3 separate regions of the Homo sapiens genome follow, and regions 1 and 3 are each linked to region 2. The links come from fine-mapping of genetic effects on gene expression. A gene starts in region 2. Each other region holds a variant in brackets. All regions are shown on one strand. Distances are from middle to middle.

Region 1 (6,034 bases), 63 kb before region 2:
CTGCAGTGAGCCGAGATGGCAGCAGCACCGTCCAGCCTTGGCTCGGCATCAGAGGGAGACCGTGGAAGGAGACCATGGAGGGAGACGGAGACGGGGACGGGGACGGGGACGGGGACGGGGACGGGGACGGGGACGGAGACGGAGACGGAGACGGAGACGGAGAGCTGATTCCTCCTATTTTATTCTTTTTCAAAATTGTTTTAGCTATTCTAGTTCCTTTCTCTTTTCATATACACTTTAGAATAGCCGTGTCTATATCTACAAAAATTATTGTTATGATTTTGATAGAAATTGTGTTAAGCTTGTACTGTATATTAACTTGGGGGAGAATCAACATTTTTACTCTGTTGAGTCTCCCAATCTATACTTTTTAATTTTCATTTTATTATTTTTGAAACAGGGTCCCACTCTGTCACCCAGGCTGGGGTGCAGTGGTGCGATCTCAGCTAACTGCAACATCCACCTCCCGGGCTCAAGTGATCCTTCCACCTCAGCCTCCTGAGTAGCTGGGACCATTCTACTATGCCCGGCTAATTTTTGTATTGTTTTTGTTAGAGACAGGGTTTCACCATGTTGCCCAAGCTGGTCTTGAACTCTTGGACTCAAGTGATCCTCCCACTTCAGCCCTGCAAAATGCTGGGATTACAGGCATGAGCCACTGTGCTTGGGGTGAGTCTCCTAATCTATGAAGACGACGTGTTTCTCTGTTTATTCAGATCTTTTTTGAGGTTTTCAGCAGCATTTTGTAGTTTTCAGCATGTAAGTTCTATATATGTTTTGTTAGATTTACACCTAAGTATTCCTTTTTTAAAGCAATTGTAAATGATATTATTTTGAATTTTGGTGTCTATGAGTTCATTGTTATTTTATAGAAATCTGCTTGGTTTTTCATTGTTTATTATTTTTTTGAGACAGAGTCTCGCTCTGTCACCCAGGCTGGAGTGCAATGGCACAACCTCAACTCACTGCACCCTCTGCCTCCCGGAGTCAAGTGATTCTCCTGCGTCAGCCTCCCGAGTAGCTGGGATTGCAGGCATGTACCACCATGCCTGGCTGATTTTTGTATTTTTAGTAGAGATGGGGTTTTGCCTTGTTGGCCAGGCTGGTCTCTAACTCCTGACCTCAGGTGATCCTCCCACCTTGGCCTCCCGAAGTGCTGGGATTACAGGTGTGAGCCACCACGCCTGGCCTACTTGGTTTTTTAAATGTTTGCCTTGTATCCTGTCACCTGTCACACTGATTTAATAGTTTCCAGGAGCTCTTTTGTAGACTCTGGGATTTTCTAAGTAGACAACCATGTCATCTGCAACAAGGGACAGAGTTATTTTATTTTTCGAATCTACATGCTGTTTATTTCCTTTTCGGGCCCTGCTGGTGTGCCTAGAACTTTAGCACTGCATTGAGTAAGAGGTAAGAGTGGACACCCTTGCCTTGTCTTGATCTCAGGAAGGAAACATTCCATTTTTGCCCATGAAGTATGATGTTAGCTGTGGCTTTGCCTTTGACAGATGCTCTTTATCAAGTTGAGGAAGGTCCCCTGCACCTATTTTTCTGAGAGTTTTTATCATGAAAGGTGTTGGTTTATGCCAAATGCTGTTTCTATATAAATTGAGATATTCATTTGATTTTCTTTGTTAGCTTGTTAATGGGTTTTTATCAAAGGAGCTTTGAATATTGACATAGCCTCACATTCCTGGATGAAACCCCATTTGGTCATAGTTGATAAATCTTTTTCTATATTGCTGAATTCTGTCTGTTAATATTTTATTAAGGATTTTCTCATCTATATTCATGAGGGTTATTGGTCTATAGTGTTTTTGTTCTGTCTTTGTCTGGTTTTGGTATCAGGGTAATAATCAACTTTATAAAATGAATTGGTAAATATTCCCTCCTCTTCTATTTTCTGGAAGAGGATGTGTAGAATTGGTGTTAATTTTTCTTTAAACGTTTTGTAGACCCTCCTGTGAAACCATCTGGCCCTGAAATGTCTTTCTGGGGAGCGTTTAAATTGCAAGTTCAATTCCCTTCCTTGGCATAGGGCTGTTGAATTATCTGTTTCATGCTGGGCATGTTGTAGTTCGTGTTTTCAAGAAGTGGTTCATTTTGTCTAAGTTGTCAAATTTATGTATAACTTCAATAATACGTTTTAAATAAAGAATCCATTATTTTTCCTTAATTTTATTATGTGTGTGGAATTTGTGTTTTTACAGTTTTATTTTATGATTTCTCAGTCTAAATAAATATTCACCTTTGAACCTAGCTTCTTATGATTGTAATTTTATATGTATCTTTTTCTTAAAGAAGGTTCCGCTATCCCCCAAAACATGCAAGATTCGGGCTGCATAGAAGCTGGATCTGTCCAGCCCCTGACTAACATTTGTTTCTGGCATTAAATGAAACTTGCCTTTAAATGAAACTTAAATGCGTAGAGTGAGTTTCCGGACTCACGTGTGGCCAGGTCTCCACAGGCCGTGGTCAAGCTCTTGCTGACTTTTGAAGCGAAATCCCATATGAACAAAGGAAAGGAGATCAGTCAGCTGCCCTCGTTTCTGTCTGATTGGTGCCAGGTGATGAGCGTCCCTCCTCTTTATGCTCTT[T/C]TGAATTTCCACAGTAGTCATGCTTATTTTTTCAAAAAACGAAAAGAAAGAAGAGAAAGCCAAAAAAGAAACAAAATTGGGATGTTCGGGTTGGAGAGTTAGCAGGGGCATCTCCAGGAGGGTCCTGCCCCCCACCCCAAAGCCGGCCTCAGGGAGTTCCAGGCGTTCCCACACTCCCCAGGCAGGACGGTGGACGCAGCGCAGACAGGAAGCTCCCCGAGATAACGCTGCGGCCGGGCGGCCTGATTTGCTGGGCTGTCTGATGGCCCGGGCCGAGGCTTCTCCCTGCGCCTGGGACTGCGGCCGCCTCTCTAAATAGCAGCCATGAGGCGCCTGGGGGCAGTGTCCTCGCGGGCCAGCGACGGGCAGGACGCCCCGTTCGCCTAGCGCGTGCTCAGGTAGGAGACTCTGCCCGGGGCTGCAGCTGAGGGTTTCACGGGGCTATGACAGTGCAGAGGGGAGGCAGGCAGGCTTCCAAACTGGGCGCGAGGTGGGCTCCTGCTGAGCGAGGAGGATGGGAATCTGTCCCTAGATCCAGGCAAAAGATTGAGTCTCAATAAATCTGGCACCAGAGTTCCAAAGTTTGATTAGTTCATGGCGGAAATTCGTGGAGCCTATTGATGAGATGGGATCCGACCCATGAGAGGTGCTGGATGATGGAGTCACCCTCTTGGGTGGCAGATTTCAAACAGCCCAAGGCCCAGGGGGCTAAACAGTCTTCGCTAATTCCAAACCGCAGTGCAGTACCTGGTCTCACAACCTGACGATTGTTCCTGAGCCTGAGCAGCGTCTGACGGGCCAGGCGGACAGCAGCCACGACTGCCCCCAGGGACCAGTGGCTCTGTGTTGGGCTCAGGAACGGGGATCAGAGAGGTGGGGGAAAGGTGGGCCTTGCTTTGGCAACTTTCCAGGGAAAGACTTTGAGTTCAGATGGGGTCATCTAAAACCAAGTGGGGTCATCTTGTCTCCAAAATTGGAAAGGAGGAAAGTTTCCTAGGGCCGCTGCCTCCTACCTGGATGCCTTGCGCTAGGAACTGGCGGTCTTTTTAGAGCTGAGGTGATGTGGTCGTTCTCAATTTAAAGATGAACGTTTAAAGCCATCTCATGTGCATAGCTGGAATTTTGGTTTGATGGGAAGCACTTTGCCTGTGGTAGGCAGAGCACTGCCCCAATCTTTCACAGCTATTCGATTTTGTTTACAATTTTGAAAAATCCATGTACCGTAGAAGAGAGCACACCGGTAATGTGCTGACCGCTGGGGGAAGATAAGAGAGGATAGGTGCCTTCTTACTCTGTGCTCTTGGTAAGAAGCTAAGAGGAGCGTGTGCTGTTGTGGGTGGAATCCAGGCTGCCCCAGAAGGTGCTCTGTCACTGTAGGGAGGGAAACACCGCGGTGGGGCTGGGGCAGTCCCCAGTGAGAGGAACCTCCTCATGCTTCAGGGATGTGGTTCTTAGGAGGTATTTGTGGTGCCTGTAAGATGCTGGGCCTTGCTGTAGATACTTAATGAAAAAGTAGAATAGCATGTTTGGCAACTGAAGCCATGATTTTTTCTCATTGTCTATTTCATTTTTTTTTTTTTTTTTGAGATGGACTCTGGCTCTGTCACCCAGGCTGGAGTGCAATGGCACCGTCTTGGCTCACTGCAACCTCCGCCTCCCAGGTTCAAGCGATTATCCTGCCTCAGCTTCCTGAGTAGCTGGGATTACAGGTGTGCATCATGGCACCTGGCTAATTTTTGTACTTTTTAGTGGAGAGGGGGGTTTCACCATGTTGGCCAGGCTGCTCTCGAACTCCTAACCAGGTGATCTGCCCACCTTGGCCTCCCAAAATGCTAGGATTATAGGCATGAGCCACTGGGCCTGGCCCCATTGTTTATTTCATTCATAACATGTATTTCCTCTCAGGATTCCACGTTTAACCCCCTCTCCCCTGCTTGTCAAGTCTGCCCCTTCCATTGATGGGAGGGCCCTGAGCGTCTTGGGCCCTGGCTGGGAGATAAGGATGTTGTTCTTAAAGAGGTCCTGGGGGTAGCTGTGGCTTCTCCGTTTACAAAATGGAATTCCTCTTCTAAGAAGGCAGTCAGAGGGCGAGACCTCTGGGAAGCAGAGACTCCTTCGGGCGCCTGGGTGCCCTCACCCTGTGCCTACCTGCCCTGGTTCCTGCTGTGCGTCTGAGAGCGCCCCGCTGCAGGGCCTGTGCCTCCTTTGTGCCCATAGGCCTAGCTGGGGCCCCTCGCAGGAAAGTGGACAGAAACTCTGTGAATGGGCAGCGGGGTCAGTGAATGAGTGGAGCGAGTGAAGGCATGAGAAATCCCAGCCTGGGCTGTTCCGGGGATCAGTGGATGAGTGAAGTGAGGGAAGGCACAAGAAATCCCAGCCTGTGCTGCTCCGGGGTCAGTGAATGAATGGAGTGAAGGCACAAGAAATCCCGGCCTGGGCTGCTCCGGGGTCAGTGAATGAATGGAGTGAAGGCACGAGAAATCCCAGCCTGGGCTGCTCCGGGATCAGCAGATGAGTGTGAGTGAAGGCACGAGAAATCCCACCTGGGCTGCTCTGGTGTCAGTGAATGAATGGAGTGAAGGCATGAGAAATCCCACCTGGGCTGCTCCGGGGTCAGCGGATGAATGGAGTGAAGGCACGAGAAATCCCGCCTGGGCTGCTCTGGGATCAGCAGATGAGTGTGAGTGAAGGCACGAGAAATCCTGCCTGGGCTGCTCTGGGTTTCTCTGCTCACTACTCACCCCTTTTCTTGGGAGACGGAGCCTGATCTTTGTTGAAGCCACTCCTGGGACATCTGCGGAGTGAGGGCAGTAAAAGCCTTGCTGAACACCTGGTTATACCTGAACAGAATCACTTCTAGCTAGAGGGGAAATTCCCATGTCAGCCTTTGATTCCTGAGACATTAAAAAAAAAAAAAACTAAACCCAGTTTGCATCCAGCAAACACTGAGAAGTGAGGTTCGACTTGCGTACTGAGTGGGTGGGGAGGAAGAGTTTACTATTGCTTTCAGAAGCCACATACCACAAGGAGCCAAAATACTGCTGCTGAGGCAGGAGCCGGGGAGACTACGGTTATGAGCCCAGTGGACCAGCACGTCTGGCTACAAACCTTGTGGTGCCCCTTGTTTTGACATTATTTTTGTATTTTTTATTTTTATTTTATTTTATTTATTTCATTTTTTTGAGACTGAGTCTCACTCTTATCACTCAGGCTAGAGGGCAGTGGTGTGATCTCGACTCACTGCAACCTCCACCTCCCGGGTTCAAGCGATTCTCCTGCCTCAGCCTCCCGAGTCACTGGAATTCCAGGCACCCGCCACCATGCCCAGCTAATTTTTGTATTTTTAGTAGAGACAGGGTTTCACCATGTTGGCCAGGCTGGTCTCGAACTCCTGACCTCAGGTGATCCACCCACCTCGGCCTCCCAAAGTGGTGGGA
Region 2 (6,034 bases):
CCTACCCAGGCTGGCACATGTGTCCCAGGAGTGTTGTATGAGGGTGGGCAACATGGAAAACATGCACAGTTTATGTGACTGTCAAAGGAATGACTAGTTTGTTTGTTTGTTTTTTGAGATAGGGTCTCACTCTATTGCCCAGGCTGGAGAGCAGTGGTGCGATCACAGCTCATTGTAGCCTTGAACTGCTGGGCTCAAGCGATCCTCCCACCTCAGCCTCCCAAGTAGCTGGGAATACAGGTGTGTGTCATCATGCTTGTCTAATTAAAAAACTTTTGTTTTTCAGAGATGGGGTCTCACTGTGTTGCCCAGGTTGGTCTCAAACCCCTGGGCTCAAGGGATCCTCCCGTCTCAGCCTCCCGAAGTGCTGGGATTATAAGCATGGACCACTGTGCCCAGCCTTAGAATGACAAGTTTTAAGTATTTGCCTAATTAAAGGGACAGCATTAAGGAAACCACTGGCCTCTTGCAGCTGGAGCCATAAGACAAGCCTCGAGCATTGCCCCTGAGCTCTGCCCCTGTGCTTCTGCTGGAGCCCCTAAGCGCTGCCCTGTGCTTCTGCTGGAGCGCTGCAAAGCCTGTTGCCCGCTCCGGTGGGGGATGTGGGTAGCCTGCTGTCAGCAGAGCCAGCGAGCTCCCAGTGGAATGGGGCGGGGGGAGGAAGAGGTGGGAGGTTGTTGTGCCTGAAGAGTGGACATTTCCTCAACATCAGGTCCCCACCTAGTGAGCGGGACACCCACTTCAGCCAGGGGCTGCGCAGGGGTCGGGAGGAGCCCGTCCAGGCAGCCAGCACCTCCATCATCGCAGGCTGATCTCCTTGCCTCCTGGGAGCCCAGGGAGGCCGGGGATGGCGGCATTATTCTGAGGGTGCTCCAGCCCTTTCCATGAGAATCCTCATGTCTTGGCAGGACCAAGGCAGGAGGGTTGAAGCCCCTACGGAGCTCCGAGAACAGCCTCACGTCTGGCTCAGGCCACTGCTCTGGGACCACCTCTCTGCCAGCTCTTGTTCTCCTCCCGCCCCACAGATGGGTCCACAGGACGTCTGCTGTGCCACGATGGAAAGTTCTGTAGCTGTGCAGCCCAGCCTGTCGCCTCTGCCGCATGTGGCTGTTGGGCACTAGAAACTTACCTCATAAGACAGAGCATCCAAACTTTTAACTTCACTAAATTAAGTTGATTTTAGCGTTAGAGAAGTATTGAATTTAGCATAGCTAGTGGCTGCCACGTCGGATGGGGCAGCTAGCTGGCAGAGCCCTGTGCTCAACCTCTGGCCATGGCCCAGCAGCCCCAGCATCGCCCTGGAGCTTGGAGAAATCTCAAGCCTCAGGCCGTATCTCAAATCTGCAGCGTCAGAATCTGCACTTTAACCAGCTCGTAGGTGATTTGGAAGCACATTAGATTGTAGGAGCCAGCTCGGTGTGGAGGGCAGAGGTCAGGGTGTGGAGGGCAGGGGTCAGGGTGTGGAGGGCAGAGGTCAGGGTGTGGAGGGCAGGGGTCAGGGTGCCTTCTTCCATGGCTTTATCGGTGCCACAGCCTAGGCTTAGCGAAACCACGAGGATAAAAATAGGCCCTTCTGTTCTCCGCACCGTGAGCTTTGTGACTGATCCGAGGCGGCGAGCGGGGGCACTGCACTGCTGTGGCGGGGAAGTCACGGCTGACAAGAACTGCCAGGGACGAAGCCACGTGCATTAATTCATTAAAATACAGTCAGCTATGGAAGGCAGCATAGGATGTGGTTTCGTTCTTAAAGAATTTCATCTGGATGGGCAGACAGATGTGTAAACATGGACTCAAAGGCCGGGCGAGCTGAGATCAGACAACAGGCGCTGGACGCATCCTAACTACGGCTGGGTGGCGGGGCTGAGAGACGGGCTGGGGTTGGGGGTGGGGTTCTCAGTTGGAGGTGGCCTTGAGCCGGCCTTTCAAATGGCTTTGCTTTCCTCTGGGAAAGCTGGAGTTCAGGAGGAGAAGGCCGGTCAGGCCCTGGGGAAAGAAAACCCAGGAAGGAAAAAGGAGCGTGTGGGTGATGGATCTCCCTGGGACGCAGGTTGTCTTTCTGGAGCCCCAAGGGCCCCTGTGCGCGCCATCTGCTGTGCTGGGTTCTGGTTCCAGCTCAGTCCCTCCCTGCGCAGGTGACCTCGGGTGGCTTTCCTGCCTTCAAGGCCCCAGCTGATTCATCTGCAGAGTGGATAGCTTGCCCCGCAGGGTGGCTGTGGTGAAGCAAGGCAACGTCTGTTACTGCATGTCGAAGCCGGGCTCAGCTGTTTCTTTCTGCATGGAAAGTTCTTCTGCAGACAGTGGGGCCTTTGAAGGCAGGCGGCACGTGTTGTTTTGTATGCCACAGGCCTAGCATCCACTTGGCAAGGTGCCCTTTCTTAAGCATCTGTGGGCTTCTTTAAATTCCATGAAAATTTTGTGTGTATTTACTTTTTCTGGGGCTGAGGGGCTCTAGCCAAACCCTCCCAAGGGCCCCTGTCTTCTCTAGTAGGTCAGGACCCACTGCTGGGTGTGCTCAGTGTTTTCTGAGTTAATGATGATTAGTGAATAGGTGACGTCTAGAGATAAAACTTTAAGTCAGGTTACTGGCCGGACCAGGAAGGTGGGGGTTTCAGGCCCAGGCCAGTGGCCGGAGGCAGCTTTGTTAGGGACAGGGAAGGGCCCTGGGACCAGCAGGGACCATGTCTGGCTTCGGGCCTTGTGCGAGGGTCTTGCAGAGGCCTGCTTGGCTTCTCCGGGGAGGGGCTGCTCCCCCTGTTACTTCCACCTCTCTGCAACCCTTGTGACATCATACAGGCACAGCCAATCTCTGCAAAGTTCTGTCTCTACCTCAGGCCCCTATACATTCTCTCTGAGCTGGCACTCAAGCACCGTGGGACCTTGGCTGGCTTCTGGGGAGCAAGAGATCCATTTATGAATACTTGATTTCTGACTGCTGGGTGAGCTGGAGTGTGGTTTATAAATACCTTGCTATCTTTAAGGTGGGCTTTGCCAAAAGAATAGGGTGACAGAGATGAATTTCAGTCATGCAACGAACCCTCGACACTTGGAAGGTGACAGAGGGTAGATGGTGACAGACACCACTTTGTGCCGTTGAACTGTGTTGGTACCGGGCGTGGCCCAAACACCTGGAGGGGCCCCACAGGTGGGTCAGGCTTCTGGGCTCTGGTCACTGCTCTGTTTGGTTTCAAATCATGTGACTTTGGCCTTCTTAAAAAAAAATCTAAAGAGGCTGGGCATGGTGGCTCATGCCTGTAATCCCTGTACTTTGGGAGGCCGAGGTGGGTGGATTGCTTGAGTTGAGGAGTTTGAGACCAGCCTGAACAACATGGCAAGACCCCATTTCTACCAAAAATCAAAAAAATAGCCAGGCATGGTGGTGCGTGCCTGTGGTCCCAGCTACTTGGGAGGCTGACATGGGAGAATTGCTTGAGCCCGGGATGGGATTGGGGTGGAGGTTGCAATGAGCCAAGATCATGCCACTGTACTCCAGCCTGGATGACAGAGTGAGACCCTGTCTCAAAAAAAAAAAAAAAAAAACCTAAACAACTAAGGCCATGGTGAAGTAAACCTATATTCAAAACAAGAGTCACAAAGTAGAACTAAATGTAAATATATACCAAGAGTTGCCGGTAGTCAGGAGTCTCGTGCAGTTGACCTTGGGCTGCTCAGAGTCCCTGCTCAAGGTCACTCTAATTTTGTCCCAAATTTGAACAAACCACTTTTATTATTTCACCATAAATCTCATACTTTTGGCCAAAGGCTTCTTCGGAACTTATTGACAGCGATGACAAAGCCCCTGAAGGTTTTCTTCTTTACGAGGGAGTAACTCTTCCATCAGCACAGCCTTCCCTGCTTGTCAGAGGGAGGTCTCTCTTTCTTGTGCTTCCTAGACTTGCCTGGTCATGCCTTTTCTTATTTTAAGGCTAATCTCAAAAGAAAAAATAGTGTGAGCACCACTTGACTGCCTGAAATTTCATGACTCTATTTTAGAGAGTCATTGCCTCATCGCCTTGCCGTAACCCATGACAATGCTCCTCATTTGCGGTGATTAAGTTGAAATTTGCAGGTAAAACTTTAGCATGTTCCTCAAACATCAGAGCTGACCCTGGGTCTGGTCTCAGCCACAGCAGAAAATGTATTTAAGAGCTCCCTTGAGCAGGCAGTGGGAGGGGTTGCAGCAATGAGCTTAGAAGCAGCTGCCACAGGCTGTCTGAGCACTGTGAGCTGCTGAGCTGGTGGCCTCAGCCGAGGTCGCGTGGCTCCTTCCTTTCTTGCCTAGACCTTGGCTATTTTATCAACAGAAACGGCAGGGACCAGTGAGCAGAGAGCTCAGCAAGCTCATGGCGCAAGAGTCGTGGAGCTGTGACCTCCACCAGGGCTGAGAACGGCCCCTTATACCGCCAGCTCTTGGCTGCCTGGAATCTCTCGGGAACCTCCACGGGGCCCTGCACAGCACAGGCCACTGTGGATACTTCTGGGATTTGTGGCTGAGGAGAGAAACTTAGGAAAGACAAATGTCACGGCCCTTTCACAGCAGACACTGGTTGGGCCTGTGCTGTGGCCTGGAGGCCCAGCTTTAAACGGTCTCTCCTTTCTCACATTTTTTTATCTTAGGGGTGGGGAGACTTTTCACATAACAGCCTTTGAGGTTGTGGGGTGCTATGGTTTGGATGTTTGTCCCCCCAAACCTCATGGTGCAATCAGATCCCCCGTGTTGGAGGTGGGGCCCAGCGGGAGGAGTCTGGGTTATGGGGGCGGATCCCTCATGAATGGCTTGGTGCCGTTCTGGAGGTGGTGAGACGGTTCTTCCTCTGTTAGTCTGGTGAGAGCTGCTTGTTAGGAGGAGCCTGGCGTCCCTCCCACGCTTCCTCTTCTGCCCTGTGGTGGCTGCACGCCGGCTCCCTTCACTTCCTACCAGGAGTGGAAGCAGCCTGAGGCCCTCGCTGGAAGCATATGCTAGCGCCGTGCTTTCTGTACCGCCTGCAGAACCATGAGCCAAGTAAACCCCTTTTTTTAATGAATTGTCCAGCCTCAGGCATTCCTTCACAGCGACACAAATAGGCTAAGACACTGGGAGAACACAGAGAATAAATTTTGCGATATTTGGGGAGATGATGCTGCCTTTACTGTTATTATAAATAAAGTTTCGGTGCCGCCAAAGAAACAGCCCTTGAATATCAATTTTTTTTTTCTTCTCGGCAAGACCATTTACTGCTATAGAAGGGTGTGCCCTCACAGATGGAGCAATGGCGCACACCTGGACAAGGGAGGGGACGGGGTTCTTATTCCTGACGCACGTGGCCCCTGCTGCTGTATCATTCCCCTATTGGCTAGGGTTAGACCGCACAGGCTAAACTAATTCTGATTGGCTGATTTAAAGAGAGTGATGGGGTGAGTGGTTTGGTGGGAAAAATGGTTATGGCAGAGCAGGAAAACGGAATGAGTCAGGGTGGGGCAGGAAATCGGAATGAGTCAGGGTGGAGCAGGTGATCGGAATGAGTCAGGGTGGAGCAGGTGATCGGAATGAGTCAGGGTGGAGCAGGTGATCAAAAAAGGTTGCTTTATGAGGAAGTTAAGTTAAAAGTAGAAGGCAAATAATTGAACATACTGACATACTGATTCTTTGAAGAGAAATTTAGGACTTATATCTAACACTGTTTTTTTCATAATAAAGTGAGAGGGGCTGTGGTTTCAAACAGCATAGGCCTGGGGTCGGACTCATCTGCATTCACAACCCGTCCCCCTCCCTGTTCATTAGCTGAATGACATTGGGTGAGAGCCTCCGTCCCGTCTCTGAGTTCCTTAGCAATGGGTATAATAATGTGTGACTCCAAGGCTTGGAGTACGGGAGATACGGGAACAGATATGGAGCTATAGAGTTCATGCTTAGAGACATCAGTTCCCTTCCTTCTGCTCCTGGCTCATGGTACACACATGTTTTGAAAACCATGCCAGGCATCTGACCTCAATGCACGCAAGCATTTAGCTGCTGGGTCATTGGCAGAAAAGCCTCAAGCAGGGGTTCAGGGAAGGC
Region 3 (6,034 bases), 72 kb before region 2:
CAATGGAAGAGTTTGGGGCCTAGCGTGCTAAGCACGCACAATTTTCATCGGTAAACTTTGTCAAGAAAACTTAAGTTATCTTTTTTTGTCAAGAAAGCTTAAATATATCAAATATTTTTGAAAGGTAAATATAAACTTTTTCATGATTTTGTTGAACAAAGATTAGATAGTAAACCTTCAGGCATGAATGTATGCATTTGCTATGGGAAGTAATAGTGGTTTTAAAAAATCCTTTTCCCTTCTAGGTACATTAGTGCAGCCTTTTCTCCGTGATTCATACAACACAATAAAGGAACTAGTGAAGGTATACAAAGTCACACAGTTCTTTAGTACAGCATCTTGAATGTTTTCAGGCACTGAGATGATACTAGACCTGTAAAGCAGGTATTAGACTTGATATTTATTAAAACTTATAACAGGACAATGCAAACACAGCCTAGTGAAAGAGACATTTCAATGACTGGAGATGGGCCTGGTTCCTAAGATTCCTGTTATTGCTAGATGAGCTGTTGGAAATGCTTTAACTCCATCGAATTTTCTCACTATAATCAATAGCAGCAACAGTGGGTGAGTGACTGTAATGAAGTTTAGTCTGAATGCCTCTAGCAATCACATTTTACTCAAAATGCTATACAGATAACATCAGGGCCGTGCTCTGTAATAACACACTTAATGAGGCCACCATTAAAGTCAGCGTGCTGTTAATTATCTGGATCTAAAATGGCCTAAGCTTCCTCTTGAAAGTAGAGCAAATCACTCCTTACTTAGCTTTTAAATCATTATCTGACAGAACTCCCTTAGCATTCTGCCAGTTTTATTCCCGACTGTGATCTCTGGCATGCTGCAAGCTTGTGATAGTACCTGACCGTTTCACTCAGGGACCCTGAAAGCAGCGCTGACCACATCTTAACCTGACATGGCTAAATCTTCGCCTAAAGCTCTTGGGGAGTTTGATGTGGTGGGTGGGGAGTCCCTCCCTGTGTTTGGTGGCCTGAAGATGAGCTGCATCATTCCTTCGTGGACCTCAGGTTTCCCACTGGGAAATGAAAGAGCGTGGGCTAGCTGAGTCTGAGGGTCCCTCTAATTCTAAAAGCCACTGACTTTAAGTACTACAAGTTTAAAGTATCAGTAAATACAGACAAGTTCTCAGAGTATTTGGCACTTAGTAAAGATGAATGAATGTGTTTTCCTGTCCTTGAAAACCAAACCAGTTACAGATTTTATCTTTTTAAGACAAGAGTCTTGCACTGTCACCCAGGCTGGAATGCAGAGGTGTGATCATGGCTCAGTGCAGCCTCAAACTCCCCAGCTCAAGCGATCCTCCCGCGTCAGCCTCCTGAGTAGCTGGTACTACAGGTGCACACCCAGCTAATTAAAAAAAAAAAATTTTTTTTTGTAAAGATGGGGGTCTTGCTAGGTTACCCAGGCTGATTTTGAACTCCTGGGTTCAAGTGAGCCTCCCTTCTTGGCCTCCCAAGGTGCTGGAATTACAGGCATGAGCCAGCATGCCTGGCCTGGGGTTAACTTGATTTTCAGTTTTAAGGCCTGTGCTGGAGCAGGAGTGTCTAGTGTGGCAGACAGTTGGGGGTGAGTAGGATGGTGTTTGGGGACACCAGAACAGCTCCTATGTCTTCACTGAGTGTCGGTCCATGTGGGTCAGGCACCAGGGTAGACTCTTGAAGGATTAGCTCAAATCCTTCCAAGGACCCTGGGAGGTAGGCAGTGGTTTCCAATGCTTGGAAAGTTTTAAAAACGAGAACACTGAGGTCCCACCGGCAGCATATCTCATCGGCAGCTTTAGGGTGGGGCCCAGCCATGTGTTTTAAGAAGTTTTCCAGTCGATTCTGATGCAAGCTCAAGTTTGAGGACCTCTGATAGTTGACTCCCTAATAGTCTCTGATGAGACAGTGGTGGGGCCCCGCCCTCATGCGCCCAGGCAGGGAGGCTGTGCTCCAGATCTCATGCCTGTGCTCCAGATCTCATGCCTGTGCTCCGGATCTCATGCCTGTGCTCCGGATCTCATGCCTGTGCTCCGGATCTCATGCCTGTGCTCCGGATCTCATGCCTGTGCTCCTGGACAGCTGTGCGCTGCCGGACTGGCACGGTCAGAGGGAAGCGCCGGGGAGAAGATGGAGGCCCAGCCCCACACTGCTGAGGCAGGAGGCCAGAGGGCTCCACTCTGTCCGGGAACTTAAGGACGGGGAGAGGTGGCTGCCGTTAATGTCCTCATGGACAATGTCCCAGAGATTTGGCAGCATGCACTGTGTGATCCCAGTGAGAATTCCCATCCGGAGACAAGCGGGGTTTTCATCCGGCTCCTGCTGTCCAGATTTCTGAGTTATCTCTGAGAAATGTAAATACGATTTGGGATTTGCGCCAGAGTCTTTTCCTGGCCCCCTGGCGTGGACT[C/T]GTTCCATGAGAGGGTCAGGGTTCACGAGGCAAAAGGCTGTTCCCAGCAGCCACGACTTCAACACTTTCAAGAAAAAGCTGCGGGGAGGAGAGGAAAAAGGAGGAGGGGGAAGGCCTCCTGGCCCTTCTGTTCCCAGTGCAGGTGTGAACACGGTTTATAGTCTAACTGTGCTTCCAATACAGTGTACTCGAAATAGGAAGTTGAATGATCACTTATTTATATAACTGAGAGTAATTATCGGCTTATTGGCATTTTTTTTTTTTTTTAATTTTTAAAAAGCCCTTAACGTTTCAGGAACACAAAAACAAACGGAAAACACCCACATCAGCTGTGAAACAGACGCTGGGCGCTTGGGTCTTGGGGGGTCCTGTGGGCCTTGCTGGCTTGCTTGGTGACAAGTGCAGCTTTAGTGTGACGGGCCCAGACTCCGACTGGCACGTTCTTTGTGAACTGTGATCTTGGGCAAGGTCTCTCATTCTTGAACTCTGAAACAGGGGCGACAACTCCTCCTTGCTATGAGGGTAGCTGTGAGGCCTCCATGAGCGAGCGGTCGTGAATGATCCTAGCTGGCACCGGGTTCTACACACGTTCCGTTCTCTTCACCCCAGTTTGCGTCCTCCACGGGCAGAGGGGATGGCTGCCCAAAGGACATGATGTGATGGGCCTGGCCTGGGCACACTGTGCTCCACACCCCACTTCAGACAATAGAGGCAGATTCACCATGAGGCCAATAAAGATCCGGCTGGAGAGGCCTTAGCATTGAGTTCTGTGGTCATATATTTGTATAAAATTAGCACAAATAAAATATTAAGCACAATGGGCCGGGTGCGGTGGCTCACGCCTGTAATCCCAGCACTTTGGGAGGCCGAGGCGGGCGGATCACGAGGTCAGGAGATCGAGACCATCCTGGCTAACACGGTGAAACCCCGTCTCTACTAAAAATACAAAAAATTAGCTGGGCGTGGTGGCGGGCGCCTGTAGTCCCAGCTGCTTGGGAGGCTGAGGCAGGAGAATGACGTGAACCCAGGAGGTGGAGCTTGCAGTGAGCCGAGATCGCGCCACTGCACTCCAGCCTGGGCGACAGAGCCAGACTCTGTCTCAAAAAAAAAAAAAAAAAAAGCACAATGAGTGAAGACCGCTGTCTGGTTCCTCTGTCACAGCCTCCTGCTGAGTGGTGCCGATGCGGCCCAGGCATCTTTGCATCCTGCTGAGGGTTTCCCCACCTTGGCACTGTTAGCTTTTAGGGCTGGAGAGCTCTGTGCTGTGGGGCCATCCCATGCATTGTAGAATGTTTAGCAGCCTCCCTGTCCTCTCCCACTAGAAGCCAGTACCATGTCCCCAGTTGTGACAACTAAAAATGTCTCCTGCACATTGTCAAATGTCCCTGAGCCCGAGGGGTGGGGAGAACAAACTGACGTTGAGTTGGGGTTATATTATTTTGGATTTCAGCTGGATATGCTGGGTGGTTCATGGTGCAGGAGGAGGTCATGAGCTACAAATTGGTCAGTGGTGTGGTCATTTCAAAGACTAGGATTACTCTGAACAAAACAAACCAAAACCCAATCGTTGAGATGCCTGAAATCAAACACCTAGTATATGAAAGAAAACTGATAGAGGTTTCCCCAGACTTGACAGCTATCCAAAAACTGTTCATGGCGTCACTGATAAAGGCTTGTGGAGCTGAAGTAAACTGTTTTGAAGCTACCAATAAGAAGATATTTAAATAACCATGCAAGAAAGAGCAAATACTGAGTCATCTTCTGTTCTCTTTGTAGAAATTTGTGTTCACGGGAGCAGGCAATGAAAGAATATACAGCCAAATAATATAAAAACGTAAGGGCTGGGCTGGGTGCGATGGTTCACATCTGTACTCCCAGCACTTTGGGAGGCCGAGGTGGGTGGATCATGAAGTCAGAAGAGCGAGACCATCCTGGCTAACACGGTGAAACCCCGTCTCTACTAAAATACATAAAATTAGCCGGGTGTGGTGGCGGGCGCCTGTAGTCCCAGCTACTCAGGAGGCTGAGGCAGAAGAATCGCTTGAACTGAGGAGGTGGAGCTTGCAGTGAGCTGAGATCACCCCACTGCACTCCAGCCTGGGCAACGGAACGAGACTCCATCTCAAAAAAAAAAAAAAAAACCCCAAAAAACCCCCCCAAAAACATAAACAAAAACATAAGGGCTGTCAGGCAGCTTTTTAAAAACTAAACTTTTATTAATATCTAGAGATAATTATAGGTTCACATGCAGTTGTAAGAGAGGCTGTGTACTTAATATCCCCAAGGGCAGCACCTTGTGAAACTGCAGGACAGTCTCCCAGCCAGATACAGGGACGTGCCTCGCTGCAGTCACCACGGGGACCCCGCACGGCACCCTCCTACAGCACCCCCTTCCCTCTGCCCCGCTTCCTCCTGGATCCCTGGCAACCGTGAGTCTCTTCTCAGTTTCTGTAGTTTGGCCATCTCAGGAGTGTTGTATAAAGACAATCATACAGTAAGGAGCATTTTGGGGCTGGTATTTTTCAGTGAGTAGAGTCCCTAGTTCCTACAAGGTGCTGCGTGGGTCTATGGTGGGTTCCTCTTTGTGACAGGGCCGCGTTCCATGGCGGGCATGTGCCACAGTCTGTTTAACCATTCACCTGTTGAAGGATGTCCAGGCTGATTATCCTGTTTTGGGATATTATAGGTAAAGCTGCTGTAAACCTTGGTGTACAGCAAGCTTGTCCAACCCACAGCCCTGGGGCTGCATGTGGCCCAGGATGGCTTGAACGTGGCCCTACACAAATTCGTAAGCTTTCTTAAAACATCGTGAGATTTTTTTTTTTTTTTGCTCACCAACTATTGTTAGTGTATTTTATGTGTGGCCCAAGGCAATTCTTCTTCCAATGTGGCCCAGGGAAGCCAAAAGACTGGACGGCCCCGGTGCGTGTGAACACAGCTTTCCACTTCTCTGGAATAATTCCTAGAGTGCAGCTGCTGGGTGGTAGTGTGGTTGTACGTTTAGTTTTTTGAGGCACTCTCGGACTTTTCCAGCGTGGCTGCACCATTTCTTTTTTCTTTCATTTTTTTTTTTTTTGTGACGGAGTCTCACTCTGTTGTCCAGGCTGGAGTGCAGTGGTGTGATCTTGGCTCACTGCAACCTCCGCCTCCTGGGCTCAAGCGATTCTCCTGCCTCAGCCTCTGGAGTAGCTGGGACTACAGGCATGCGCCACCACAACTGGCTAATTTTTTATTTTTAGTAGCGATGGGGCTTCACCATGTTGGCCAGGATGGCCTCGATCTCTTGACCTCGTGATCCGCCCGCCTCAGCCTCCCAGAGTGCTGGGACCACGGGCCTGAGCCACCACACCCAGCTGGCTGCACCATTTCACATTGCCCCCTGTTTCCCCTCATGCCAGCATTTGGTGTTGGGATTTTGTTTTAGCCACCTTGATAGACAAGTCGTGATAGTTCACTGTGGGTTTTGTTTGCATTTCTCTAATGGCTAATGGCGTTGAACATCTTTTCATGTGCTTATTTGCCGACTGTATATCCTCTTTAGTGAAATGTCTCTTCATGTTTTTGCCCATTTGCTACTTGGGCAGTTTGTTATTTTCCTGTTAAGTTCGGAGAGTTCTTTCTATAT

Alleles and levels. Alleles are on the strand shown, and positions count from the first base shown. SD is a standard deviation of normalised expression in the study named.
As copies of C replace T in region 1, the expression in liver of the gene that starts at base 2,842 in region 2 goes down (moderate effect, 0.60 SD a copy in GTEx).
In carriers of allele T in region 3, the expression in atrial appendage of the gene that starts at base 2,842 in region 2 tends to be higher than with C alone (moderate effect, 0.43 SD a copy in GTEx).

Evidence for each region. PIP is the estimated chance that this variant, and not a neighbour inherited with it, causes the effect.
Region 1: its variant is the best candidate, but not a certain one, in a credible set for the expression of ALLC in liver (GTEx, PIP 0.70).
Region 3: its variant is the best candidate, but not a certain one, in a credible set for the expression of ALLC in atrial appendage (GTEx, PIP 0.56).

What each region holds. Positions count from the first base shown.
Region 1 is chr2:3,592,174-3,598,207 of GRCh38, forward strand. It overlaps COLEC11 (collectin subfamily member 11), which reads left to right and starts at 2,939. Exons shown (of 7, transcript NM_024027.5): 1 at 2,939-2,995. The variant T/C (reference allele first, on the strand shown) is at 2,598.
Region 2 is chr2:3,655,359-3,661,392 of GRCh38, forward strand. It overlaps ALLC (allantoicase), which reads left to right and starts at 2,842. Exons shown (of 12, transcript NM_018436.4): 1 at 2,842-2,936. RefSeq lists a silencer at 4,711-4,987.
Region 3 is chr2:3,583,528-3,589,561 of GRCh38, forward strand. No RefSeq gene overlaps it. Among named protein-coding and RNA genes, the nearest start is that of COLEC11, 8.6 kb to the right of the region's middle. The variant C/T (reference allele first, on the strand shown) is at 2,410.